4 linked regions of the Homo sapiens genome follow. The protein of the gene in region 2 purifies or fractionates together with the protein of the main gene of each other region. This does not show direct contact. Each region holds a gene or a part of one and is shown on either strand. Other genes may lie near its edges. The genes, in order: RPP30, POP7, POP4 and RPP40.

Region 1 (7,197 bases), on a different chromosome or scaffold from region 2:
TACAAAATGCCTTTCAAGCTTCTCTTATATTTTCAAAAGCTATGAAACCCATCAAAATTATAAGGACTTAAATTTATGTAATTTTTTTATTTTTGGATACTTAAATTTTCTATTAATTTGCTATAAGTCATTGAAATGTTATAAATAATTTTCTCATATCTACTCTTTGTTCATTTTATTTCAGCCTTTAGAAATAAGAGGGCCATATGACGTGGCAAATCTGTATCCTTTTCTGAGTAAAAAGTTGTTGACATTGTCTTTCAGGAAATTTTGAATTTGAAGTCGTATTATAGTTGAACATGTATTTTTCTCAACCTTTTACTGTAAGTTTACCAATTAATAACTTCAAAAATAAATTATATAACATTATAGAGAGCTTTATGCTTCTGTTTTTTAATTAATCATGAGATAGAAAAGAGGGAATGAGGGACTTCATATGATAAAAGCTTAGAGTTAAATGAGTCTTTTCTCAGATGCATGTTCCAGTTGGACTAAGAACTGCTGTTGAATTAATTAGCCTCTCAAGATGACCAGGTTAGCTGGCACTTTCTGTTATGTTTGTGTTAGTCTCGTGTCCTTGGGTGACTCTGGGTTGAAATCTTTAATGCTCCCCCAAGAGGCTTGCTGTTTGGGCTCTCTGAAAGTGACGCCAAGGCTGCGGTGTCCACCAACTGCCGAGCAGCGCTTCTCCATGGAGGTAAGCAAGTTCTTCCAGTACAAACTGAATGGTCATGTTAAAAGCAAGTCATTTTTACAGCCATACCTATTTTTATTGCCCTACCCTACAGAGTTCCTTTGGGATCATCTTTTCTCAACCTGTTCTAAACACAGTCATCAGTGTTTTCTCACCCTCACTTCAGGCTTTACTTTCTAAAGTTTGTAGAATGAATATAGTTTTCATTACAGAAATAAGTATTGAATAGTTCTTCCAGCTATACATGTGTGCTCCTGCCGACATTTTGATAGGCTTCTAATCTCCCTTCCTTCTTCTCCCTCACCAGAAGGCCATGCTTTCCCTGTTGAAAATCTCTGTTTTAGAGAACGGATATGTTAAAAATATGTGTTAAACTATTTATTAGGAAAACAAAACCAGCAAATACATTTTTAAAAATCCAACTAACAAAACATAGACTGTAACTTTTACATTTATTATAACTCAGAATGTTTCTTTTCTCATGTTTGCTTACATGGTCAAGTTGTGTCCAGACTGTACCTTTTTTATTTTTTTTTCTTTTTCTAAATAGAGACAGAGTCTCACTATGTTGCCCAGGCTGGTCTTGAACTCCTGGGCTCAAGCAATCCTCCTACCTCAGCCTCCCAAAGTGCTAGGATTACAGACATGAGCCACCATGCCCGGCCAGACTGTACATTTTTTACTCACATTTTGTATATGTACCTTTTCACTGACTGAGTTTCCTGCTCATCAGATGTTAAAAATTGAAAGTATGCTGAAACTTTGGAAAATGAAAGTGAAATTTTATTAAAACAATTTAAGCTTTTGATCACTGTTTTGTCTTCGTTATCTTTATAATTCTTAGGACTAGTTGTAGTGGTTAAGAAGCAATTTCATTGATATCACCCAAGTGAATTTTAAACTTCAAAGTAGATTGCTACATATAGACTGAGTTATTTGTCATATGAATAGCTAGGTTATTGAGGGCTTGTGTGTTGGGCTTTATTGATCTGATTTCCACTTGAGAGAACTGCTTATGTATTGGCTTGCCGTAAATTAGATGATTTTGCTTTTAGTTTCAACATTTTTAGTTTGAGATTTTTGTATTATGTAGCCTAGAACTCATCACATAAGCTTTGGGAGTGGTCAAATTAATGGAGATTTTGAATAATGATTTTCTTGAAATTAGGGAACAGTTGGTTCACACTTTGATAGTTCTGTCATTATTTTGATCTATTTTAAATAAACATTCATCAGGATTTTGAGTAACAGTTGGGGTTCCAAAATGGACTAAACAAGAAACAGAAACTAAAATATAAATACATACATAATTTTATATATAGGAAAATAGGAAGTCCTGCATTTGACTTTAAGAACTCAGCTATTCAGCATATAACACATAATATGTAAAGTATTTTTTTTTAGAATTTCTTTTTGTGGGTACATAGTATGTGTATATATTTATGGGGTACTGAGATATTTTGATATAGGCATGCAATGCATAATAATTACATCATGGAAAATGGGGTGTCCATCCCCTCAAGCATATGTCTTGTGTTATAAACAATCCAATTATGCTTTTTTAGTTATTTTTAAATATACAATTAAATTGTATTGACTATGGTCACCCTCTTGTGCTATCATATACTAGACCTTGTTCATTCTATTTTTTTTGTACCCATTAACCATCTTCACCTCCCTCTCAGCCCCCCACTACCCTTCCCAGCCTCTGGTAACCATCCTTCTACTTTCTGTCTCCAGGAGTTCAGTTGCTTTGATTTTTAGATCCCACAAACAAGTGAGAACATGTGATGTTTGTCTTTCTGTGTCTAAAATCAGGCTTTTATAGAAGCTAAACTTAAAGAAGACTTGTGAACTTTGGGTGGCATTACCATTCACCCCAGTGTACCCAGGACAGTTCTAGTTTATGCCTGCTGTTTCTGTGACCTTATTAGCACTTCTATTCCCTGAAGAGAGTCCTAAACTAGATGATAAAATATGGTTACCCTGGTTTTCGTTGCCATTGGGATCAGTATGAGACGGTAGTATGATGTGTTCTTAAGATTGCTAATTCAGCCTAGGTAATATTAGAAGAAATAAAGGATTCTGAGACAAGGAAATTCAAAGCCTCGTTATTATACTCTCATTGATGAAATCTCAGCCGGCATCTGTATCATTCTGAGTGCCACATTTAAGAAGGACAGCAGTGCACTGAAACACTATTGGAAAATGTCTACTCAGTCCTTAAAGGGTCTGGAAGCCTCATGATGAGAGGAATCACGAGGGTGGTGCAGACATGGATACCTGGCAAGCAGAAGAGTTGGGACACATGGTAGTTAGCTTTCAACTTGGAAGGCTTGCCACAGGAAATCAGAATTAGGTTCTTTGGGGGTCCAGAAATCTAGAAACCAATGAATAGCAATTCTGAGGAGGTTGTGGGGAAAGGACAGAGGAAAGAGGCCCAAGGTCAGGGTCTTTGGCCTGTGATTGATAAAGTTCATGCCCTCAATCAGCCCCTGGACCAAAATGAACCTGTTGGGGACACCTGCCTTAGCCCCTTGTGAACAAAATTATTCACTCGTAGATAATCCTTTAGATTTTCCTTGGCAAGATGATTAAAGGAAATACTATATGTGAAAACATTTTATAAACTAAAGCATACACAAATGTAACGTCTTGCTGTTACCAAGAAATGCATTTATTTTTAAAAGACACTAAAGAAATTAATGCATTTTGTTAAAAAGTGCTGATTTTCATAATGTTTATATTTCAGTTGATTTTTAGACTATGGGTACAGAATCAGTGACATAAATTAATAGCTATAAGTGTGACGTTTTTCATTTGGTGAAATGGAAATCATTGACAGTTTTTATTTTGAGGTTCTTATTATGTTGGCATTTTAATGACCTTGAGAGCAGTTTTATCCCTTTTACAAATAAAAGTGTTTTAAAATAATTGGCAGAGTAGATTTACTAAGTTAATCTTGATAAATGGGAAAATAATGCTTAACACTTTATGGTTGACTTTACGTTTATTACTTGAAATAAGGAATAATTCATAGCTAAATTTCTGTTCAAGTTCTTTTGATTCTGCCACCTTTGTAGCTAATGGGTATCTCTCTCTTTCTCCATAATCCCTTTCCATTTCTAAGGACAGAGTTTGGGTCTGTTTTCATGACACTATGGCCTTTCATAAGTTACCCTTCCAAACTCTATTTTCTCCTAATTTTTTTGTATTCCTACTTCACATCAGCCATATTGTCCCCTAAACTATTTTACCTAGGTTCTTCTTATCTTTCTCTCCATGCCTTTGTAAAGGAATATTTCTCTTTTTCTTACTCCGTTTACCCTATTCTGAGTAGTGTCACCTTTATATAATACCTCATTGCTTTAACCAGGCAGTTAATTCTTGTGGATGCCTCCATTCCTATTATATTTGCTCTTATTGTGCTTCTCGCATGCATGTAGTATAGGGAAAAGCACTGTCTGTTAGGAATCTTAATACCCTCTGTATGGACACAGTGCCTAGCCTATTAGTAGGTTTCTAGGAAAAATTGGTTAAATTTAAGTTGAACTCTGCTGCCAGCCTAATCTAAGCATTTAATAATTTCTATTTATTCTTTGTTCATTGTCACCAGTTAAAGAGATCAATAAATTTATGAGTGATTTTATTCATTAACTCAACTAGTATTTACTGAACACATTTTGCATAACCAGGCCATTGTTGAGTGTTGGCAATATAATGCAATTGATTCTTCAGAGGTACCTTGATGTTCTAATAAGAGAGATAGGGTACATGCTGTAAAATGAGGCAAGCATGTGCTCCACATGGGAGCCATACACTTGATTGCTGTGTTTGCTCTCTTGATTTGTCTGTCTACCATATATAAAGTGTCTGCTACATCAATGTCTGTGACTGGGTTCTGGCTACATAAGATGCCATGGACAGACCATTAGAGATAACACTGTCCTGCAGTTTTACCCATGAGGTAATCTTTAGGAATGAATTAGATGTTAATAATATACTGATATTTGTGTCTGTTGGGAAAAAAAGATAATGACGGTAAATGGCACTAGCAGCCATAGCAGTTCATTATGGCTTATCATTTGCTATTGCTGTAAGCCAAAGTAATATGTTAAACCACCTCATTTTAAATTATGTCTTAACTTCAAGCACAGTGGTTTCCCTGTTTGTTTTACAGAAACTAGAAAAACTGCTTTTGGAATTATCTCTACAGTGAAGAAACCTCGGCCATCAGAAGGAGATGAAGATTGTCTTCCAGCTTCCAAGAAAGCCAAGTGTGAGGGCTGAAAAGAATGCCCCAGTCTCTGTCAGCACTCCCTTCTTCCCTTTTATAGTTCATCAGCCACAACAAAAATAAAACCTTTGTGTGATTTACTGTTTTCATTTGGAGCTAGAAATCAATAGTCTATAAAAACAGTTTTACTTGCAATCCATTAAAACAACAAACGAAACCTAGTGAAGCATCTTTTTAAAAGGCTGCCAGCTTAATGAATTTAGATGTACTTTAAGAGAGAAAGACTGGTTATTTCTCCTTTGTGTAAGTGATAAACAACAGCAAATATACTTGAATAAAATGTTTCAGGTATTTTTGTTTCATTTTGTTTTTGAGATAGGGTCTTTGTTGCTCAGGCTGGAGTACAGTGGCATAATCACAGCTCACTGCAACCTCAATCCTGGGCTCAAGTGATCCTCCCGCTTCAGCCTCTCAAGCAGCGGGAACTACAGGTGTGCACTACCACACCTGGCTATTTTTTTTTTTTTTTTTTTTTTCCCTTGTAGAGACATGGTCTCACTATGTTGCTGAGGCTGGTCTCAAACTCCTAGGATCAAGCCATCCTCCCGCTTTGGCCTCCTAAAGTGCTGGGATTACATGAGCCACCACATGCAGCCAGATGTTTGAATATTTTAAGAGCTTCTTTCGAAAGTTTCTTGTTCATACTCAAATAGTAGTTATTTTGAAGATATTCAAACTTATATTGAAGAAGTGACTTTAGTTCCTCTTGTTTTAAGCTTCTTTCATGTATTCAAATCAGCATTTTTTTCTAAGAAATTGCTATAGAATTTGTGGAAGGAGAGAGGATACACATGTAAAATTACATCTGGTCTCTTCCTTCACTGCTTCATGCCTACGTAAGGTCTTTGAAATAGGATTCCTTACTTTTAGTTAGAAACCCCTAAAACGCTAATATTGATTTTCCTGATAGCTGTATTAAAAATAGCAAAGCATCGGACTGAACCAACTTTGGAAATAATTTATTTTTATAATGGGATCATGTTAAGTAGAAGTAGCTTTTTATGCAAATACATGCATTTATGCAATATTAATGTAAGGGCTCTAAAACAATGGAGTAGAGCCAGAGGTATAACTGAATAAGAAATTTTTTTAAGCAAGAGAAAGACAACTGTTCTGCGGGTTGGAGAAAATACAATTTTTTTTTTTTTTTTTGAGACAGTCTCGCTCTGTCCCCCAGGCTGGAGTGCAGTGGCTCGATCTCTGCTCACTGCAAGCTCCGCCTCCTGGGTTCATGCCATTCTCCTGCCTCAGCCTCCTGAGTAGCTGGGACTACAGGCGCTCGCCATGTATTTAGCAGAGACGGGGTTTCACCGTGTTAGCCAGGATGGTCTCAATCTCCTGACCTCATATTCCACCCGCCTCGGCCTCCCAAAGTGCTGGGATTACAGGCGTTAGCCACTGCGCCCGGCCCGAGAAAATACAGTTTTAAAAAGAGAAAGCTTTATAACCTCACCAATGAATACAAATGTTTAAATAAAATATTGATTAAAAAAACATTAAAAGTGCATCATGACCAGGTGAAATTTATTCTTTTTTTCTTCTTCTTTTTGAGACAGGGTCTCACTCTGTCACCCAGGCTGGAGTGCAGTGGCACAATCTCGGCTCACTGCAACCTTTGCCTCTTGGGCTCAAGCCATCCTCCCACCTCAGCCTCCCAAGTAAGTGGGACCAGAAGCATGCACCACCACATCCCAGCTAATTTTTGTATTTTTTTGTAGAGATGGGGTTTTGCCATGTCCAGGCTAGTCTCAAACTCCTGGCAGATTCAAGCAGTCTGTCCGCCTCAGCATCCCAAAGTGCTGGGATTACAGGCACAGGCATGAGCCACCATACCCGGCCTTCCAGTTCTTTTTAATGCAGTATCCTTTATCATATTCATAGGTCAAAAGAGAAAAATCAGAATATTTTTAATAGATGCCAGAAAGACATTTAATAAAGTTAAATCCACTCCTGATTTTTAAAATGACAACAATAAAAACCCATGGCAAAATTAAAGTAGAATAATATTGTATGCATACATATATATGTTCATATGTGTCTGTTTTTTGTGTATATTAAATGTGATGGCTCCAAAAGCATTTTTGACTACCGCTTGGCCAATTTGATGGATTAACCTACTCATTCCTTCTGTAAAACTGAGGCTGGTGCTGCTGAGGCCACACACCAAAAGTCTGCCACTTCCTTGTGTGCCAGTTTGCTTTTTTCC
Region 2 (7,067 bases):
TGGGGCTGGGCACGGTGGCTCACGCCTGTAATCCTAGCACTTTGGGAGGCCGAGATGGGTGGATCACAAGGTCAGGAGATCGAGAACATCCCTGCTAACACGCTGAAACCCTGTCTCTACTAAAAATACAAAAAAATTAGCCAGGGTGTGGTGGCAGGCACCTGTAGTCCCAGCTACTCAGGAGGCTGAGGCAGGAGAATGGCGTGAACTCAGGAGGTGGAGCTTGCAGTGAGCCAAGATTGCACCACTGCACTCCAGCCTGGGTGACAGAGTGAGACTCTGTCTCAAAAAACAAACAAACAAACAAACATTGGGATGACTGGGTTTCTGCACTGTACTGTTTTGTTACACTGCTCATAGCATAATCTATGCTCTCTATAGAGGCAAGAAACACTTGGGTTCCCCTTTCACCTAGATACCTGTAGCGTTTCCTACCATCCCTATTCAGGCACACACAGAATTTACACAGGAAAGAATCAGTGGCAGTGGGATGGCAGGACACTAGTGCAACAGGATTTTTTATTTATATGGCAATAGTTACAGACCGCATACACACACTCAGGAAGGCCCACTAACTGGGCCCACCAAGAGACAATTACCCCCACCCTCAATGCAGAGTCCTTTGGGCTTCCAGGGAACAGGCCTTTTCTTACATGGCTCTGGTCCGAGGTCCAGTACTCAGCATGCGAAGAGCCATATCACGGAGGGGATAAGTGGAGGAGTGTCTTTTCAATTACTTGGGTGTGACCCTGAAGACTCGGATGTGGATGGCTGAGTTGTTGCGGATCCGAGTCAGTGGCTCCCGTGTGTCGGTCTCTGGCTCCAGCTCATCAACAAGCTCCACGGTGGAGGTATTGGCAGCCACCTGCAAGGACCCGAAGCTGCCCGCCTGCAGCTGCAGCGCGATGTTGATGGCGCGGTTGATGGCCAGGCCCAAGCCGTGAATGTAGATCTCAGAGCACGCGTTCTGACCCCGGGCCCCTCCGTCCAGCAGCTTCTGGCAGCGGGCCAGCTGGGCCTTAAAGTCCGTCTTCATGTTGACATAAATGTCATTGGGTCTCCGGGGCAGGCGGCTGGGAAGCCTTTTCCTAAGGGTGTATTCCACTGGATCCAGTTCAGCCTCCACAGCACCGCGGGGCTCTCGGTTTTCTGCCATGCTGTGTGCCCTGGCGTGGGAAAGGGACGCGATCAGAGGGCTCAGAGGGACCTCGAAGCCTTTCCTACCCCTTTTCCTGTACAAAGGGTGCACCTGGCCGGGCAGTGGCTCACGCCTGTAACCTCAGCACTTTGGAAGGTCGAGGCGGGAGGATCACTGGAGCCCGGGTGTTTGAGATCAGCCTGGGCAACATAGCAAGACCCTGTCTTAAGAAAAATTTTTTTAATTACCCGGGCCGAGGGGGGAGGATCGCTTGAGATCGGGAGTTCGAGGCTACAGTGAGCCGTGATCGCGCCCGCCACTGCACTCTAGCTTGGGAAACAGAGCAAGCCTCTGTCTCAAACAAAAACAAAAACAAAAATAAAGGGTGCACCCGAGAAGGGACACACTCGATGTCCCTGTTTCCTTCCGGCCCCTCGTCCTCTCCCACTCACCTCCAGATCCCGCGTCTCCCCACCCCCCGTTCCGATTCATTCATCGCGTCGCCCTCAAACTCGCGCCCCTCCGCCGCCCCTCCCGTGCTTACTCTCTTCGTTCCACAGGGCCCTCCAGGCGCGCGAGGCCCGCTCCCCGCCAGGCCACTCAAGGGTTCGCCGGCCAGCCCAAGTAACCGCGACCCCAGGTCCCAGAGAAAGAAGGATGTGGGTGCAAGCAGCCAGCCAGCTCGTGGGCGCCCTGCCCGCGCCGGGGTCCTGAACGGGCTGCGGAGTGCGCACGCGCGCCCGTACCCCGCGAGCTATGAATCGCCTTCCCGGCTTCCGTTCGCCCCGCCCCTTCCCTGAGCGCAAGGGCGACTGCGCGAGGCGTTTGAGAAACGCGAGACTTCCGGGCGTGACGGGATCTACACGTGTACGCCTCGGGAACTGGCGGGCGGCCGAGGGCGGGAACCAGGTCCGAGCCGGGGAGGAGCTAGAAAGGGCCGGGTCGGCGTCTCTAGGCCTGGCGGAGTTCCCGGCCGGCGGAGGGGTAGCGTAGGGAAGACACCTGGAGGGGAGGCTGTTCTAGGGGCAGGGTTCTTCCCCATGGGAGCAGGGAAGGGGCCGAGTTCAGGAGACCGCGGTCGCCAAGGGGCCTGAACTCCGCGTCCGTCGCAGCTCCTCTGGTCAGAAGAGGCCTGGGCAGGGCTGGCAGAACTGACCCCCTAGTCTAATGTCCCTGTGGCCCGAGGACCGAGGGGGAACTGAGGGACATAGCCGGTCCCCACCTCGCTGGAGGACAGCGTCCCGGGACTCCCCTGCAGTTCACGGGAAGCTGTCCGCCTCCTGTCTGTGCTGGGGACCCACGCTGTGAGCCCTAAGCCCAGGCTTCACGGGTCCCCAAGGAACGCTGACCCACCCACGCCCCTCAACCATCTCCCACCAGCTCTGCAGCAGGCGACCCCGGATCAGGGACTTGCCGCCCCCTGGCGGGCAAGGTGGGGAGGACGCGCGCCGGATTCGTGGCTCTCAGGCCAGTGGAGTGGGGGCTCTGCCCAGATGGGCATAGTTTCTGCAGAGTTCCCTTCTGAAATGAGTAGGACCTGCTGCACTGGGGACCTTGAACTACTCTGTTTGCCCAGCATTCAAATGGGGATGTTCACAACAGCTCCACCATATTGCACATGCATTTTATTGAATGGCTAGCTGTATAGCTTCTGTCTACAAACTTGCATGCATTTATTTTTGAGACAGGGTCTCTGTGGCCCAGGCTGGACTGCAGTGGTGTGATCTCAGCTCACTACAACCTCTGCCTACCGGGTTCAAACGATTCTTGTGCCTCAGCCTCTTGAGTAGCTGGAATTACAGGCGCACGCCACCGCACCCGGCCAGTTTATTTCATTTTTTTGAGACAGGGCCTTACTCTGTCACCCAGGCTGGAGTGCAGTGGCGTTAACACGGCTCACTGCAGCCCTGAACTCCTGGGCTCAAGCAATTCTCCCGCCCCAGCCACCTGAACAGCTTGGACTACGGGCATGCACTAGCATATAAAGTTGTATTTTAGAAGTTAATCCTTGGTATTGAAATTTTCGATATGTTGGCCGGGCGCGGTGGCTCACGCCTGTAATCCCAGCACTTTGGGAGGCTGAGACGAGCGGATCACGAGGTCAGGAGATCGAGACCATCCTGGCTAACACGGTGAAACCCCGCCTCTACTAAAAATACAAAAAATTAGCCGGGCATGGTGGCAGGCGCCTGTAGTCCCAGCTACTCGGGAGGCTGAGGCAGGAGAATGGCGTGAACCCACGAGGCGGAGCTTGCAGAGAGCCAAGATCGCGCCACTGCACTCCAGCCTGGGGGACAGAGCCAGACTCCATCTCAAAAAAAAAAAAAAAGAAATTTTCGAAATGTTCACATAATTGTTGGGAGCGATTCATTCCTCCTCACATGATGTGCCTCCTCTCTCCCATATCCTGTTAATTGTAGCAGTTGCGGGCATTTGCGATGACAGGATATACGGATGGTGCCACACTTGACCTTGAGTACTGGAATGCTCTGAGGTCAAGCATATGCCACAGTGCTTGAGACTGTGGGCATCACCTGTAGTGTCTTTTTCTCCAACTCCTGTCTCCTTGGTCCTAGGGAGGTCTGGCTCTAATTGCTAGTTTCCAGAGATTCATTCCTTTTTTTTTTTTTGAGACGGAGTCTCGCTCCGTTGCCCAGGCTGGAGTGCAGAGGCACGATCTCAGCTTACCGCAACCTCTGCCTCTGAGGTTAAAGCGATTCTCCTGCCTCAGCCTCCTGAGTAGCTGGGATTACAGGTGTGCACCACCACGCCCGGCTAATTTTTGTATTTTCAGTAGAGATGGGGTTTCACCATGTTGGCCAGGCTGGTCTCAAACTCCTGATCTCAAGTGATCCTCCTACCTTGGCCTCCTAAAGTGCTGGGATGACAGGCTTGAGCTATTGTGCCCAGCCTCATTTTTAAGCTTTGGATCACAGGAAGAAGCAACAAGAAACTATACCCAACTCAAAACATTTTAGGAGAATCATAAAATTGGTCCATTTAGAAGGTAGAGTTGGGTCCATTAAGTTATTGTTGCAAGAGGTTGCATATTCAATGATCAGTTATATAAAATAATGTTCTCGTTAGTATGCTTTTCATAATCTGTTTTATCATACATGTAACATTCAAACTGACAAATACACTGACTTGGGAATAAAGGATATGAAAACACTGGTTTAAAAAAAATGGGGATGCTAATTCCTTTCTTGCAGTTGAGTTGTGAAACCCAAGGTAATGTTGTAAACTGTAAACCTACACAGGTGAGTTGGCATATTTATGTCTCCCAGGCCCTTCTCAGTTCCCTAGGATGGAGTCTGACCCCATTTGATCAAAGGTTGAAGAGAGTTCAGATTCTAGAGAAATTTGCTCCCAGCACCCCATTTCAATCCCATAGTTCTTTCCTTTACTTCAGATTCTTTCATTAACCACAAGATTGGGATTGAATTGGAAGATCCAACATATTATAGTAAAGATACCAATTCTCTTCAAATTAATCTATAGGGGCCAAGCATGGTGGCTCACGCCTTTAATCCCAGCACTTTGGAGGCCAAGGTGGGCAGATCACTTGAGGTCAGGATTTCAAGACCAGCCTGGCCAACATGGTGAAACCCCGTCTCTGCTAAAAATACAAAATTAGCCGGGTGTGGTGGCACGTGCCTGGTACTAATCCCAGCTACTCAGGAGACTGAGGCAGGAGAATAGGTGGAACCCAGGAGGCAGAGGTTGCAGTGAGCTAAGATCACACCACTGCATTCCAGCCTAGGCAACAGAGCGAACTCCGTCTCAAACAACAACAACAAAAACCCAAATTGATCTATAGGCGTAATGCAATTCCTACAAAAATCCCAGCAGTTTTTTTGTATTAAATATAGATGTTTATTCTAAACTTTATATGGAAAGGCAAAAGAAGTAGAATAGTTAAAACCACTTTGAAAAAGTTGTTGGAATCACACTACCTGATTTTAAGACTTACTATATAAATAAAGTTATCAAGAAAGTATGGTTTCCCCAGTGGGATAGACACAAAAATCAATAAGATGGAATTGAGAGCTCAGAAATAGATTCACACAAGTGCAGCCAACTATCTCTCTTTAAAAAATAATTTTTTGTTTGTTTATAAGACAGTGTCTCACTTTGTCACCCAGGCTTGGAGTGCAGTGGCACAATCTTGGCTCACTGCAGCCTCAACCTCATGGGCTCAAGTCATCTTCCCGCCTCAGCCTCCCAAGTAGTTGGGACTATCAGCACGCGCCACCATACCCGGCTAATTTTGTTTTATTTTTTGTAGAGACGAGGTCTTACTACGTTGACCAGGCTGATCTCGAACTCCTAGACTCAAGCAATCCTCCTGCCTCAGCTCCCTCAAAGTGCTGAGATTACAGGCGTGAGCCACTGCCAAACAACTTGTTTTTGACAAAGGTATAAAAGCGTTTCAATGGGGAAAGGATGATCCTTTCAAGTGGTGGTGAAACAATTGGACAAATAGGCAAAGAAATGAGCCTCAGCCCTATGCAAAAAGTTAATACAAAATGGATAGTAGATTTAGGAAAAAACTTCATGGTGTAGGGTCAGGTGAAGAGTTTTGTTTTTTTGTTTGTTTGTTTTTTTGAGATGGAGTCTCACTCTGTCGCCCAAGCTGGAGTGCAGTGGCGCGATCTCGGCTCACTTCAACCTCTGCCTCCCGGGTTTAAGAGATTCTCCTGCCTTAGCCTCCTGAGTAGCTGGGATTACAGGCACATGCCACCATGCCCAGCTAAAGGCGAAGAGTTCTTAGACATGACTCCAAAAGCACAATCCATAAAAGAAAAACAATTGGGCTGGGCACGGTGGCTTATGCCTGTAATCCCAGCACTTTGGGAAGCTGAGGTGGGTGGATCACCTGAGGTTAGGAGTTCAAGACCAGCCTGGCCAACATGGTGAAACCCCGTCTCTACTAAAAATACAAAAAATTAGCCGGGCGTGGTGGCATGCGCCTGTTATCCCAGCTACTCAGGAGGCTGAGGCAGGAGAATCGCTTGAATCCGGGAGGCGGAGGTTGCAGTGAGCTGAGATTGCGCCATTGCACTCCAGCTTGGGCACCAAGAGTAAAACTCCGTCTCAAAAAAAAAAAATGATAAATTGGACTTCATCAAAATGTTTAAACATTTGCTGTGTGAAAGATCACATTAATAAGATGAAAAGAGTAGCCACAGACTGGAAGAAAATATTTGCAAATCATATATCCAACAAAGGACTTGTTTCCAGCATATATAAAGCACTCTCTAAGCTCGAGAGGTAGAAACCGAACAACCCAATTAGAAAATGGGCAAATCCAGCCTGGGCAACATGGTGAGATCCTGTCTCTACAAAAAATTTAAAAATTAGCCAGGCCTGGTGGTCTGTGCCTACAGTCCTAGCTACTCAGGAGGCTGGGGTAGGAGGATTGCTTGAGCCCAGGAGGACAGCACTGCAATGAACTGTGATCATACCACTGCACTCCAGCCTGGGTGACAAAGTGAGGGTCTGAGAAAGAAAGAGAGAGGAAGGAAAGGAAGAAAAAGGGAAGGAAGGAAGGAAGAGAGGAGAGAAAGAGAGAAAGAAAAAACAGAAAAAAGGAAGGAAGGAGGGAGGGAAGGAAGGAAGCAAGCAAGCAAGCAAGCGGTGGCTCTTGCCTGTAATCCCAGCACTTTGGGAAGCTGAGGTGGGTGGATCACCTGAAGTTGGGAGTTTGAGACCAGCCTGGCCAACACGGTGAAACCCCGTCTCCACTAAAAATACAAAAATTAGCTGGGCGTGGTGGCGGGCGCCTGTTAATCCCATCTACTCGGGAAGCTGAGACTTGAAAATCGCTTAAACTTGGAAGGCAGAGGTTGCAGTGAGCCAGGATCACACTATTGTACTCCAGCCTGGGCGACAGAGCAAGACTGTCTCAAAAAAAAAAAAAAAAGAA
Region 3 (7,620 bases), on a different chromosome or scaffold from region 2:
GGCAACAGAGTAAGACTCCATCTCAAAAAAAAAAAAAAAAAAAAAAAAAAAAAAAAAAACTAGAAATAATGTTTTTCTTTAATCCGAAAGTGGAGGAGAGGGGATACACAAAAAAATACTTCTCCACTATATTGTCAGAGGCTATTAGATAAATGGTTTCTGTAAATTTAGTTGTGTTTATTTACAGAAGTCCTAATTTTCGTGGATACCCACTTACTTAATAGTTGAGGCTTAATCTTTTTGAGCTTACATATGAGATTTTTCTTGAATACTCAGAATAGCAGCCTGAATGTCTCAGAGCAACAATCAAAAGGAACCTGTACAAATACAACAAAGTGTGAATTGTAGAATCAAAAAGCATATGGGTGTTCACTGTTTAAATGTTTCCATTATTCTGTATATTTGAAGTTTTTCATAATAAATTGCTGGAGGTCGGAGGGGAGTCACCTGCAATGATTCCATCAAACATTGACTTCTCGTGGAACTTTCACAAAGCCACTACTGGGAAAACACATGTGTATCCATGTTTGAAAGTTTATCATTTATAGCTATAAAAAAGAAAAAAATTAAAGTCTTTTCACCAAATGCAATTTAGAAAAGAGAAACAAAAGGAAAAATCTCCCATAACTTCACTTACCCGGTTATACAAACTTTTAGTATATTCATGTAACTATTGTGTATATATTTGGCTTTATTAGTTTGTAACCTTTTTAAAAATTGTATGTAATTTGTTTAATGGCTGCATGGTAATCCATCATGTTATAGAAATGTGTTAGCAGTGGCAGAGAACCGAGTTACCCCAAGTAACTGGAGACGAATCCGTACGCGTTCGCAGCAACTTCAATCTTTGCCTTGTCAAAAGAAAGAATTTGACTGAGGGGCAAAAAGCAGAAAGAGACCAAGGCAAGTTTCAGAGCAGGAGTGGAAGTTTATTAAAAAGCTTTAGGCCGGGCATGATGGCTCACACCTGTAATCCCAGCACTTTGGGAGGCCGAGGCGGGTGGATCACAAGGTCAGGAATTCGAGACCAGCCTGACCAACATGGTGAAACCCCATCTCTACTAAAAATACAAAAATTAGCTGGGTATGGTGGTGTGTGTCTCTAATCCCAGCTACTTGGGAGGCTGAGGCAGGAGAATCGCTTGAACCTGGGAGGTGGAGGTTGCAGTGAGCCAAGATCGTGCCACTGCACTCCAGCCTAGGAGATAGAGCAAGACTCCGTCTCGGAAAAAAAAAAAAAAAAAAGCAAAGCTTTTGAACAGTAAGGAAAGGAAAGAAAAGGAAAGTATTATACAAGTTGGAAGGACAAGCAGGCAACTTGAGAAACCAAGAGCGCAGCCTGACCCCTTGACTTGGGGTTTTACACGTTGGCCTACTTCCAGGATCTACTTCCAGGATCTTACATTACTTCTCCCCACTCCTGAGATCTTACAGGAAGCTGCTGATCAGTTTCAGGTGTTTTCTATCTGTTAGGCGGCTGCCTGTTCCCTAGCGCCAGCTGTGGCCAATTACTTTAGAGAAACAGTTAACAACCACCTGACCATCACCTGATGGTGGCCCAACACCCCTGGTGTGTGTAGCGGGGAGCCTTCTCCTGCCCTGCTCATACCTGACTACCTACCTACTGTAACAAATGTGCCATACCTAGGAACAGTTTATAAAAACAGATTACTGGGACCCACCTTATAAAAACAGATTATTGAGACCCACTGGATAAAAACGAATCTCCAGGTATGATACCAAGAAATTTGAAATGAAAGCTTACCCTGTGATTGTGATCCTGTATTTGGTCTGTGGATCAAGCAAATTAAGTGTGTGCTAACTAATCAGGTAAATTAATGCATTTAATAATGCATTAATTAGCATACCTAATTACCTAATTAGCACATAGTTAATTTGCTTGATCCACTATGATCAAATATAGCATTGTTTTTAAGTTTTTGCTATTATAAACAAAAATCACAAACATCCTCACAGGTATCTCTCTGCATACAGAAACATTTTCTGAGAATAATCAAGTGGTTTGTTTGCTTTTTATTTTTTTTGTTTGTTTGCTTTTTAAAAAATATTTTAGGCTGGGCGCAGTGGCTCACCCCTGTAATCTCAGCACTTTGGGAGGCCGAGGCGGGTGGATCATGAGATCAGGAGTTCGAGACCAACCTGACCAACATGGTAAAACCCTGTCTCTACTAAAAATACAAAAATTAGCTGGGCGTGGTGGTGTGTGCCTGTAATCTCAGCTACTCAGGAGGCTGAGGCAGGAGAATCACTTCAACCTAGGAGGCAGAGGTTGCAGTGAGCCGAGATCACACCATTGCACTCCAGCCTGGACAACACAGCAAGACTCCGTCTCAAAAAAAAAAATATTTTAATGATGAAGGAACTATGTTGTAATTGCAACTCAAGGACGACCCACCCCACCACCATCAGGGAATTCGAGGGGAGACTGGCAGTTATCCAGGGATCCCAGAAGGAGTCAACTGGGAGTTAAGAGTCCTAACAACCCTAGAAAAAAACTTTCAAAGACACAGGTCTTCTCATTAATCTCCATAATCACAGAGGTCTTGCCTAAAAGGGCCCCCCTTGAGTACACAGCTCTGAAACTGGCTAACATCTTCTGCTGTCTCATTTGATTTTAAAGTTCACATTTGTGAAGGGCTCTATTGTACAACATGGTGACTATAGTTAATAACAGTGAATTTCAGTTAATAACCTGAATTTCACTGAGAGTAGGTCTGAAGTGTTCTCATCACAAAATGAGTGTATTAGCATCGCTCATAGCTCATTTAGCCATTACACAATGTATACACATTTCAAACCATATTGTATACCATAAATACATACAATTCTTATTGGTTAATTTTAAAAATAATAAAAGTTCTCTATCAGTCCCATAAATTACAATTTTCAGGCATCTGCAAAGGCAGCATGTTTTGGTTTAAATGTGGTCTTTCCAAATTTTATACGTATAAAATAAATGCATAAGTGTACTACATATGCAAAAACTAATACATAAATTTTATAAAGTCAATGCACGCGGGGTCACTGGGATGAACCAATTTCAGTGCCTGCAGTCTAATGTTTAAAATCAAAATGGTACAAGGTCACCACCAAAGAAATTGTTTAAGCCAATGTTTCTCAAACTAAAACCTTTGGACATACTCCCAGAATCCCCTGTAAAGAAATGTATACTGTACTCAAAGTTGAGAACCACTGACTTAGCATAAAGGGACCGTATTTCTTTTCTCTCCCACCCAGCACAGGCCCAGTGCTCAGCAGAAATTGGGGCTCCACAGTTCTGCCCAACACTGGGTCACTGCTGAGAAGTCTGCACCAGGCCTTCCTGCACCTTTCCACTGAGCAATGGAGTTTGTTTATTCATTTATTTATTTATATGGAATTTATTTATTTATTTTGGAGACAGGGTCTCACTCTGTCACCCAGGCTGGAGTGCAGTAGCGCAATCCAGGTTCACTGCAGCCCTAAACTCCTTGGGCTCAACTGATCCTCCCACCTCAGATACCCGAGTAGTTGGGACTACAAGCACGCACCACCACGCCTGGATAATTTTTTTTAAATGTTTTGTAGAGATGGGGTCTCCCGATGTTGCCCAGGCTGGTCTCGAACTCCTGGGCTCAAGAGATCCTCCCGCCTGCGCCTCCCACGGTGTGAGCCACCTTTGATCTTATTGCTATGATTTTTTTATTGATAAAAACTAATAAATATTCTGAGTCTCAAGAAAGCTTTCTGAAACTATCAAAGGGACCCAGGCGGCGCATCACTACCTGTGAGGCCGACCCCACTCACAGCACAGACTGCAAGTGAGGCTTACAGATGGGAAGTGCCCTAAGCGAGGTTAAACAGCTAGTTAGCAGCAGACACGGAACTAGAACCTAAGCCTGCTGTCCCAGCTTCGGTGCCCGTGCTCACAGCGGAAGCTGCCTCGGCTCATCCGTAAGGGCGCTGATTAGGGACGACAAAGACCTCACCCCACCGTCCCCGTCCCATTTCCGCCCTCCCAGATCCCCAACCTCCTTCGAGTCCTCTCCAAGTCGCCTCGCCTCGCTCCACTCCAGGCCTTAGCAAGCATTCCACATGCCTTTACCCCAACCCTACTGCCTGTCCCCCAAAAGATGCAGGCGGAAAAGACCCCAGGAAGCGAGCCCACTCCTCCCCACTGCTCAGCAACACCGCCTACGACGTTCTCAGTAGCCGAATCCCTTTCCAGGCGCATGCGCCCCCGAGGTGGGCGAGCGCCGGTGATGTCACGCATAGCGCCATCTCCGAGCTCCGAGAGTCTGCGACAGCAGCTGCCAGTGCGTCATCAGAGAGCGCCGGAAGCGGTCCGAGAATGAAGAGTAAGCGGGGCCGCGAAGTTGGAGAGGGTTGGGGACGTTAAGGGTCGGGGTCTTGGTACTGGTGGGTGAAATGGGTCCGGGCTACCTGTTGCTGCGGAGTCCTAACAGAACCGCTACAGGAATGGGCCCACCCTACCTAAGAAAAACTGAGGGCTGGAGCACGGGTTAGCCTGGCTCGACCTCTGAGCTAGGGAGGGATGTCAGGGCTGGAGGCAGGTTCTCCCGGAGGCTGCTCAGTGGTGTGCGATGCTAGAGGAGGGTTCCAGGCCTTGGCTCAACTTGGCCACTATCTCCCGGGGTGACCGCGGTCAAGATCCTGCTCCTTTCTGCGAGCTGGTTTCACACTCTTAACCTGATGCAAAGCGCCGAGAGCTGCTGGGGAATGATATCACTAACCCAAAGCTTTGGTCCTTAGGGGTAGAAGACATGTGCCAAGGAGGGGCGTGTAGACACCGTTAAGACTGGGCCTTCAATCAGAATTTTTATTTTTCATCTCTGCCACTTTCTACCTATATGATCAAGTAGATTGTCTCGGCATGTCTGAGCTTCAGTTTGCTCATGCACATAAGTGTAATGAGAAAAAATATGTGTACCTTGTAATGAGGTTTCTGGCAAGTAATGGATGTTCAGTAATTGTTAGATGTGTATTGTTGCAGAAAGACTTCCAAGTCTGTTACTAAGCACCTGTAACAGATGAAGCAAAGTTATCAGGCCCCGCAAGTTGCTCTCTACAGTTTATAATCCCCATCTTCCATTTGAGGGAGAACTAGATGCTATATATAAAACTTGCAACCACATTGGTTTGCTTGATCAAACAAACATACCTGGCTGGGTGTGGTGGGACACGCCTGTGGTCCCAGCACTTTGGGAGGCTGAGGCAGGGGGATCACTTGAGGCCAAGAGTTGAAGACCAACTTGGGCAACAACATAGCGAGACCCTGTCTCTACAAAAACTGGAAAAAAAAAAAAAGAATTAGCCAGGTGTGGTGGCACACACCTGTAGTCTCAGCTACTCAGGAGACTGAGGTGGGAGGATCACTTGAAACCAGGAGGTCGAAGTTGCAGTGAGCTATGATTGTGCCACTGCACTCCAGCCAGGGCAACAGAGCAAAACCCAGTATCAAAACAAACAAACAAACAACAAAAAAAAAAAACTTGTAACCACCTTGCATCAAACATTCTCAGGGAAGTACAAGAAAGCTGGAATTAAATTTACAGAGTATAGTGTAAATTACATTTTCTAGCTATTTAGCTCATAAACCAGGCCTTAGTAGTCCCATTCTTATTCCATTCACACCTGTACTCTGTCCCCAGTGCCATGGTTTTCTTCTTTCAAAAAATTAAGAAACAGAAGTGTGGAATTTATTTTAGAGGTTGAAACTTTATTGACCAATGTATATTTTGAGTTTAAAGGAAAAACTTGTATTTTATCAGTTCAGGACACCATCGATTATGTGACACATTATAATTTCATATTAAAATGTGAAGAATCTTTTTAAACATCTTACAGTTAACAAAACCTATTTCTAACCATCTACATCCTAGACAGCTATATCATATAACTTTTAATGAGTTACCTTGTTAGCAAGTGCTCAAGCTTCTAACTTGGGGTATTTTAAACCAATGCAACTCAAAATGTGATTCACTGACCTGCAGTAGTATCTGGGAATATGTTAAACACTCAGGATCTAGGGTAGGAGACCAATAATCTGCATTTTAATAAGATCCCAGAGATTTTTACACACGTTAAATTTTGAGAAGCATTCTTTTTAAACCATGTGCTTGGAACTTCTAGCATAGATGTGGCCAGAGGGTGGGATAAGAGGCATCCAAGAAAGCTTTGCTCTTAATACCAACCTCATCTTCTCCTATCTCTGAATAAGCAGTTGTTCTGCTATAAGTGTAGAAGTGTAGTTATTTTCTTTTCTTTTCTTTTCTTTTTTTTTTTTTTTTTTTTTTGAGACAGAGTCTCACTCTGTCACCCAGGCTGGAGTGCAATGGCACGATCTTGGCGCATTGCAGCCTCTGCCTCCCAGGTTCCAGCGATTCTCCTGCCTCAATCTCCCATGTAGCTGGGAATACAAGTGCAAGCCACCATCCCCGGCTAATTTTTGTATTTTTAGTAGAGACGGGGTTTCACCATGTTGGCCAGGCCGGTCTTGAACTCCTGACCTTGGGTCAGGATCCGCCCGCCTTGGCCTCCCAAAGTGCTAGGACTACAGGTATGAGCCACTGCGCCTAGTGGCGTAGTTATTTTCATAGTTAGAAAAGTCTTGGGTCTTACAGCCATACCCAACAAGAATTGATCATTTCTTTTTTTTAATCCCCCAGGTGTGATCTACCATGCATTGTCTCAGAAAGAGGCGAATGACTCCGATGTCCAGGTCAGTTCTTGGCAGGGAGTCCAGGAGCAACAGAGGTGATGGCAAAGATGGCTCAGTAGCTTCTGAGCCCCCAGCACTGATTGAGATGTCCTTTCCCACATCATACTCCTCATTTTTCTGGCAGACATCTAAGGCTGGATCAAAGTCTGTAGTTCTCATTACCTGTTCCCACGTGCCAGCCTCCTTTTCTGTTGTGCCAAAGTCAAGTTTGGTAAAATGAGGCTTTCCTTAACCTTTTATCATTTCCCACTGTGTTGGGGACACCAGGCTGTGCCCACGTGGTGGGCAGCATCATTCAACCTTGTCACTGTGCCCTCTGCACTTCTGCAGAAGGTGTGCAATCACATATCATAAGTGAAATTTACAGATTATATCTGAATGCCTCGGCCTGCTTTGTCAGTTTTGCAAAAGTTCCTCTTGTGGCTCATAATGAGAGCATTACCTTGAAAGCAAGATTTTGAAAGACCAGTATACCTTTATTTTGCTTCTCCATGAAAGATGAGCCACTCAGGTATTTAAGAGAATCAGATCATTGTCCTATTATAGTCACAATGACGAGAGTGAATTAATTTTTAGTTAGCATCTACAGGTGCAAAGCTGAAGCAGAGTTCCCACCATCATACTGTGAGCTCCCTCGAAGGCTATATGTACCCTATCTTCCCATCCCCATTGCTCTCCCACAGAAGGAAGGCTGCGTTACTATTGACAGATCAGCATCAGTCTGTCAGCCTCAGTCTTAGCATTTAGCACCTGGCTAGTGCAAAAAGAGCTCAGGAAACAGCCCAGCCAGGAGACAGGCCCTCAGGAGAGAGAACTGCCCAGGTCTGTGGCAGGCATGAGGGCAGTGGCATTGCCACCAAATGAGGAATCCGTTATTG
Region 4 (7,300 bases), on a different chromosome or scaffold from region 2:
AGAAGAAAACTTCAATTTGGCATTTGGCAGATGCACTAAGGCGGAAAAGTGGCGTCAGTACTCCACTTACTTCTTTGGGTTTCTGCTTCCATTTACAAAAAAAAAAATTTTTTTTTCCCTTTAAGAACTCTTATTTTGCAGCTCTTGTTTTTTACATTAAAAAAATGGTTCTTCAGACAAAAAACCAAACACCGCATGTTTTCACTCATAGGTGGGAATTGAACAATGAGAACACATGGACACAGGAAGGGGAACATCACACACCGGGGCCTGTTGTGGGGTGGGGGGAGGGGGGAGGGAGAGCATTAGGAGATATACCTAATGTTAAATGATGAGTTAATGGATGCAGCACACCAACATGGCACATGTATACATATGTAACTAACCTGCACGTTGTGCACATGTACCCTAAAACTTAAAGTATAATAAAAAAAAAATGGTTCTTCATATGTATTCTAAAGTTTTAGTTGTTTTCAACTGGTCCTTATCAGCCTTACTGCTGGAAATAAAATTCTTTCAACCTGTTCTGTAACGATTTACAGTATCCATTGATCCCTCTCTGATCCAGAGGCATTAGCGTGAGAACACACTTAGGAACTAGGCTGGCCTGAGATCAAGTCTCAGGTCCACTGCCACTATAACTTCGGTAGTGTATTTACACACTGTGCCTCAGTTTCCTCAAAGGGTTGGTGTGAGATTCTAACATGGTAATATATAAACAGCACTTACAACAGGGACTGGCCCTGGTAAGGATGAGATTTCTTTTTATTATCTGAAAAAGTTGTAATGAACAAAATATATCTCAACCAATGGAGTGAGATGGGGACCAATATCCCCGGTCCCTGGACATCCTGGCCCAGTGTACCACATAGTAACCCACAACCCTGTGCTTATGTTGACAGAGAGAAATCAACTATGAGCTATTCACTGGACAGCAGGCCTTGCTGCCATCACAGATGGGTCTCAGGTGCAGGGCAGGATGCCAGCAAATGCTGATCTGAGAAATGTCACCATCACACAAGCCTGAGTGGACACACAGACCTTTTACCATTAAGAAATCTGAAAGCAAGCGTAAATGTAAGTAAACACGATTTTTAATTTTTATTTTTTATGGTGGACAGTGATCATTTGCCCCAACAGCCATCTGAAGCCAATAGTCCTGATTATTAAAAATCACAAAGTTATATAAATGTTCTCCTCCTTTTCGAAAACCATGTTCATTTTTTTCCCAAGAAACAGGGCTGTCTGCAAAGCCTTGAACGGACAGTGTAACCCATGGAGCTAACTTCGGTTCATCAAAGTAGTGACTGAAAAAAAGGTAGTTGTTAAACAGAGTTTTAAAAGAGAGTTAGGAATGTCTGCATTTTAAAAAATTTATTCAGGATAAGTAGTATTTCTGATATTCTAATAAAGCTTAGATCTTAGCTTTAATTTTTGAAAATCAAGAGGTGTGTGATAAGTTCCTGATGTCACACTGTGAACTCCATAAGGATTAACTAATATACAACACATGAAACAAACCTCAGCTGTTCCCACCCTCATTCTGGGAGGTCTTTAAGACAAAAAGAACCCAAAACAAAAAACCCCACAGGCGTTTAAGGATCCTTTCCCTCCTATTAAGAGTACTGTTCTCAGAGTCTCAGTTAACTGAAACGTTGCAGGATAATTCACCAGATTTTTCATATCCAGCCTTCCTATCGAAGAAAGTCAAAGTACTAAACCAATAAATGTGAAAAAGGATGTTGGGCTTAAAAAGGAAAACCTTCAAGACTTAAATCTGACATTTCAAAAGGGAAGACTGAGAAGATATGCTTACTAAATAGGATTATACTCAATGTACGGTCTTTGCAATAGGCGATTTGAGTTCCTTTCAATGTACATTTTATTTATATACCACCTCCCAAAATGAAAAAATCTATACTATTCGACATACTGTTCTATAGAGCACTGATGAGCGATATAAAAGGTAAAGAGTTCTCACCAGAGATGTTCCAATAGGAGACAGATCTTCTCTGGAAGTATGAAGCCAGTGATTGTACACAAATAAGCTTTTGCCACCACTGTGCTTGGCTCAGGACAGCAATAGGTTGATATGAAATTATTAGGCTCATTATTTCTGTCACCAAAAAAATAAAAGAGAGAGAGATAACACATGTATATCCATCACATGATCACTTCCAAAGTATTAAACTCCTATTAAAAACAAGCAGCAGGCCAGAGCCCTGGAAGACACAGGGAGTTCAGATACCCACAGGTCGACATTACTGAAGACGGCGCCGAGCCAGTCGAAGAGCTCCAGAGCCCGGCAGGACACCTCTGGCGTTCCCTCCAGCTCGCTGCTCTGCAGCACTGGGCACTGGAGATCTCTCAACGTGCTCAGTGCTACTTTTGGCTGATGCTCCTGAATTTGGTACTTGGAAAAATATGACATCATTGTCGATTCTTCTGAACCTTAAAAACACACCACACAAGGCCATTTGAATCCATCTGACCATCGTAAGCAAGTTTAGTGAATACCTGAACCCACCCATTCCCATCTGAGCGGTAAGATTGAGTAAGATGGAAGCTGTGCAGAGCTGCATTCAAATTAAAATCATTTAAAGCTGCTTTCAGCTCCTTTTGCTCAAGTTCTGTAAACGTTCATCGTTTTTCACACTTTTCCTGGAAAAGCACAACAGTTTCTGATCAGACCCAAACTAGTTTCACTGTTTGTGCTAATAAAAAAATTTCAACTTCACACTTAAAACCAAAAGCATTCCTGATGTATGAATAATATTAGTGAACTCCAGAGAGAAGGAGCTTATCTGCACAACCTCTATTAAAGAAAAAGAAGAGAAACTGAATGGTGATTGAACCTCATCCCAGCTTGACTTTGAAAACCCAATAAAATCCAGCGTATCTTTTCAGGGATGTTTGTGTAGCCAACGGCCTTGGAAGACAGAGATAGTACTCCCTCCACGGCAAAGGGCAGGCTTGCTTACTGTCCAGTATAATAGAAATAATGTCACCCTCCCTCTCTCCGGGCAGATATCAGCAGGCTTACTGTCCCTTACAAAGGACTGGAGTTCTTAAACTCCAGGTTCCTCTCCTGTAATGCAACCTACTGCATGTGCCAGCATCGCTTGGTGTCACTCTGGAAATGGGACTTGGTGAACTGGTGCAAATGGTGATATTCGGTGTGATGGTTAATTTTAGGTGTCAACCTGACTGGATGAAGGGTCATCTAGATGGCTGGTAAAGCATTATTTCTAGGTGTGTCTGTGAGGGTGTTTCTGGAGGAGACTGGCAGGTGAGTGGGTAAACTGAGTGGGAAGATCTGCCCTCACTGTGGGTGGCACCATCTACCCGGCTAGGGCCCCAGGTAGAACAAAACGTCAGAGGAACAGTGAATTCGCTGTCCCTTGGAGCTGGGACTCCCTTCTTCCCCTGCCCTTGGACAGCAGAACTCCAGGTTCTCTAGCCTTTGGACTCTGGGGCTTGCACCAGCAGATCCACAGGTTGTCAGGCTTTGGCCTTGGACTGAGAATTATACCATCTTCTTTCCTGATTCTCAGGCCTTCATATTTGGACTGAGCCAGGCTACCAGCATCCCTGGGTCTCCCACTTGCAGACAGCCTGTCGTGGGACTCCTCAGCCTCCATAACTGCATGATCAATTTCCCTAATAAATCTCCTCTCATCCATCCATCCATCCATCCATCCATCCTATTGGTCCTTTCTCTCTGGAGAACCCTGACTAATACATTTTGGCTACTACCATTCCTCTGAGGAATTAAGTCCTGTGTCTCTGACCCAGGGCTTATGTGTCTTCTGCCAGCATCCCTGAGACTGTAGCAGGCTACCTAGTTAGCCTGCAAGTATGAGGAAATCTCAGAACTTTCACAGTCCTGACAAATCCTTAAAATAGTTAGGAGCTTTAGGAATAGGGAGCTATCCAGAATCCAACGTCTGGATGATCTGCATAGAAGACTTCACGCAACTGAAACTTCAATAAGCCTTTCTGCCCTCTTTTCTATCTACCATATATGGAAGGAGAGGCACCGAAGGCCAGACCTAGGACTCATGGGAGCAACTTGGAGCACCCAGTGACGAGACACTTCCCATGAGGAGCAGACAGATGGGGCTATTTCTAAAACAGACCACCATGCTTCCTATCCTCCAAAAGAGAGTACTACACCATAATTCCTGATGACTTGATCCATTATTATCTGGGTCAAAGATACACTTCTAAAAGGAGCAACATACATGGCCGTTTTAGGCAGATTACGCTGTGTGGTGAATAGCAAACTTTGAACTAAATTTAGTGTCCTAATCAATTAAAAGTTAGAATAAATTCATCTGACATTTAATGGTAGGCCTGAGTCAGTACCCTGTGATAATAAATAAGCAGATTGTGTATATAATTGGTGCTACTTAAAAATATTATAGTCAAGGCTGTTCAAGGTAAGCTGGAGAGAGGAAAGGGGAGAAATAGATAAAATTTAGCTGCTCTGAAGCCACTCTCAAGATCTCTGGATCTACATATAACCCAAAGAGACGCAGGCAGAAAGGCCTGCGTGCCTACATGATCCTGAACTATGGTTTTCAGAGATGTCAGAAGGGCTAGTTTCCTTAATAATATTTTTATATATACGTATAGAATATTCCTTGACTAAAGAGTGAATCACCATTCAATCCTCCATTACTCCTCTTTAATTAACAATTACTTTCAAAATCACTGTATCATTACATAATTTATTCCTCATACCTGTTTTATGCCAAGCCAAAAGAAAATCAAATTTCAATGGCTTCTTTTCTTTGAAAGACCAAGATATTCTTTCATACTTCTTAGAATCCAAGTTTAAGGATAATTCCATCAAATCAATGGAAACAACTTTAAAAATGAAAAAAAGAACATATATTTCATTCATATACGTACAGCTTCTACCATGGAAAAAGTGTTACATTTTTAAAAACTAGAATTTTGGGAAATTTTATGGATAGTAAAATTATTTTATTCTTCTTCCACTCCCTTTGGTTTGCCAAATAAATAAGATCCCTTTGGTGGGCACTTCTAACCTTGAGAGCTAATAAAAACAGACATTTTCAATTTATATGTTTCCTAGGTCAAAGACCAAGGGCAGAGGACCTTGAGAGGTCAGGTTTAATCTACTTATGGATGTGGCGGCCTTAGCTATTGATGTTCGAGCCAGACGCTGTCAGCAAAACATCTCTTCACTCATGGGTGAATTTCTACTAGTAATCATAAAGACTTGGGGAAACCAAAGGAAATTCTTTATTAAGAATAAGTTGTAGACTCCTATCTTGGGTTCAGTACTTGGAATTTTTTTTTTTTTTTTTTTTTTTTTTGAGATGGACTCTCACTCTGTCGCCAGGCTGAAGTGCAGTGGTGCGATCTTGGCTCACTGCAAACTCCCCCTCCCGGGTTCAAGCAATTCTCCTGCCTCAGCCTCCTGAGTAGCTGGGACTACAGGCATGCGCCACCACGCCCAGCTAATTTTTGCATTTTTAGCAGAGATGGGGTTTCGCCATGTTGGTCACAATGGTCTCAATCTCTTGACCTCATGATCCGCCCGCCTTGGCCTGCCAAGGTTTAACCCGAAACATATATATTTAATTGACCAGTCCAAGTCTACAATCTTTATTAAATGCATCTACAGCTGAAAAGAAATGAACTTAAAAGCATCATCCTATCCTCTGTGAAGCTCGAGTCAGAAGTTTGACAGATTTTTTTTAAAAGGCCACATTTTTTTGAACAAAGAGATTAGAGGCAATTCAAACATTTAAATTTAAATTGCCACAAGAAGATTAGAAACAGATGGAACACACATGATACTTACTAAATTTCATAATTTTTCTGCCAGAAAACTGAGATGGATGACCCTGAAGTCCAGTTTCTTCATAAGTGTCTTTATCCAGTGACAAAATTAATTTCCCTATAAATCAAATAATAACTCCCATAAGATACCAAAACTAGAACTTACGTTGTCTGACTAAAAGAAAGCAAGGCAAATTGAGCAGTTAGATATCAATGTAACAAACTGCATACAAGGATCTTATTTATATCACAAGAATATTATTTATGTGTATACATGTCTTGTAACAGATATTATTTATACATTATACATCCAAGGATATTATTTATAATAGTGAAATTTAAAATAATCTGAATTTCTACTAAAGATGAAATAAATAAGTCATGGTATACTCATTCTTTTGAATATCTTCTTTTTTTTTTTCAGACAATCTCATTCTGTCTCCCAGGCTGGAGCGCAGTGGCGCAATCTTGGCTCACTGCAACCTCCGCCTCCCAGGTTCAAAGCGATTCTCCTGCCTCAGCCTCCCAAGGAGCTGGGACTACAGGCATGAGCCACCACGCCGGCTAATTTTTGTATTTTTAGTAGAGGCAGGGTTTCACCATGTTGGCCAGGCTGGTCTCGAACTCCTGACCTCAGGTGATACACCTGCTTTGGCCTCCCAAAGTGCAGGGATTACAGGCGTGAGCCACCGTGCCCAGCTGACTTTTTTTTTTTTTTTTTTACAGTATGCATTTTTTTTTAACAATTAAAGAAAGATGAAAAAATAAAGTGTTACCATTTGGTAGCAGGGCAACAGTATTATCTTCATCAATATGTGTATTGTATGTTAGTGCATAGCAAGAACCTGGAAGAGAAAGTACAGAGGAAAAATTTAAAACAAGAAATTACACCTGCAAGATGTTAGTGGATTATTTTTACAAGATAACCAGTCTTCCGGGTCATTAAAGGTCAGTTTCTACCCCTGCTCCAGCTCACTCAATAAACCAAACATCTGCTAAGGGTAAGCTGCAGCATGCAGAAGACCAAGCATGCAGAAGACCAAGCATGCAGAAGACCAAGCATGCAGAAGACCAAGCATGCAGAAGACAAAGCTTGCAGAAGACCAAGCATGCAGAAGACCAAGCATGCAGAAGACCAAGCATGCAGAAGAACAAGCATGCAGAAGACCAAGCATGCAGAAGACCAAGCATGCAGAAGACCAAGCTTGCAGAAGACCAAGCTCCAGCTAGTTCACTCCCTGACCAACAGCCTATTTGTGCAAGTTTACTATCATCAAGCAAAAAACTGACTCAGAACGGAACGTGACCTTTGGGGATGCGCGGAGAGGGGTCCAAAGTAGAATTCTAGATAAACATACACCTCTCAGAGACAGAGTTCCAGGTTAAGATTCAAAAGCTACCCAACCTCTCCAAGCCTCAGTTTCCTCACTGTTAAATGAGGATCATAGGCTTGCTTCATAAAGTTGTTGCAAGGGTTAAATTT

Evidence for each region.
Region 1: the proteins of POP7 (region 2) and RPP30 purify together in Homo sapiens (co-immunoprecipitation; 5 studies listed by BioGRID and IntAct, with this or other methods). This does not show direct contact.
Region 3: the proteins of POP7 (region 2) and POP4 purify together in Homo sapiens (affinity purification with mass spectrometry; 4 studies listed by BioGRID and IntAct, with this or other methods). This does not show direct contact.
Region 4: the proteins of POP7 (region 2) and RPP40 purify together in Homo sapiens (co-immunoprecipitation; 4 studies listed by BioGRID and IntAct, with this or other methods). This does not show direct contact.

Annotation. Positions count from the first base shown.
Region 1 is NC_000010.11:90,895,696-90,902,892, forward strand, and holds the end of RPP30 (ribonuclease P protein subunit p30), read left to right. Parts: intron 1-184; coding exon 185-222; intron 223-617; coding exon 618-697; intron 698-4,874; coding exon 4,875-4,984; 3' UTR 4,985-6,496; downstream 6,497-7,197. UniProt on the Homo sapiens protein: Component of ribonuclease P, a ribonucleoprotein complex that generates mature tRNA molecules by cleaving their 5'-ends. Also a component of the MRP ribonuclease complex, which cleaves pre-rRNA sequences.
Region 2 is NC_000007.14:100,700,920-100,707,986, reverse strand, and holds POP7 (ribonuclease P protein subunit p20), read right to left. Parts: upstream 1,867-7,067; 5' UTR 1,683-1,866; intron 1,167-1,682; 5' UTR 1,157-1,166; coding exon 734-1,156; 3' UTR 501-733; downstream 1-500. UniProt on the Homo sapiens protein: Component of ribonuclease P, a ribonucleoprotein complex that generates mature tRNA molecules by cleaving their 5'-ends. Also a component of the MRP ribonuclease complex, which cleaves pre-rRNA sequences.
Region 3 is NC_000019.10:29,601,968-29,609,587, forward strand, and holds the start of POP4 (ribonuclease P protein subunit p29), read left to right. Parts: upstream 1-4,315; 5' UTR 4,316-4,351; coding exon 4,352-4,358; intron 4,359-6,689; coding exon 6,690-6,742; intron 6,743-7,620. UniProt on the Homo sapiens protein: Component of ribonuclease P, a ribonucleoprotein complex that generates mature tRNA molecules by cleaving their 5'-ends.
Region 4 is NC_000006.12:4,993,970-5,001,269, forward strand, and holds the end of RPP40 (ribonuclease P protein subunit p40), read right to left. Parts: intron 6,663-7,300; coding exon 6,594-6,662; intron 5,936-6,593; coding exon 5,840-5,935; intron 4,873-5,839; coding exon 4,747-4,872; intron 2,452-4,746; coding exon 2,253-2,451; intron 2,117-2,252; coding exon 1,982-2,116; intron 1,308-1,981; coding exon 1,109-1,307; 3' UTR 748-1,108; downstream 1-747. UniProt on the Homo sapiens protein: Component of ribonuclease P, a ribonucleoprotein complex that generates mature tRNA molecules by cleaving their 5'-ends. Also a component of the MRP ribonuclease complex, which cleaves pre-rRNA sequences.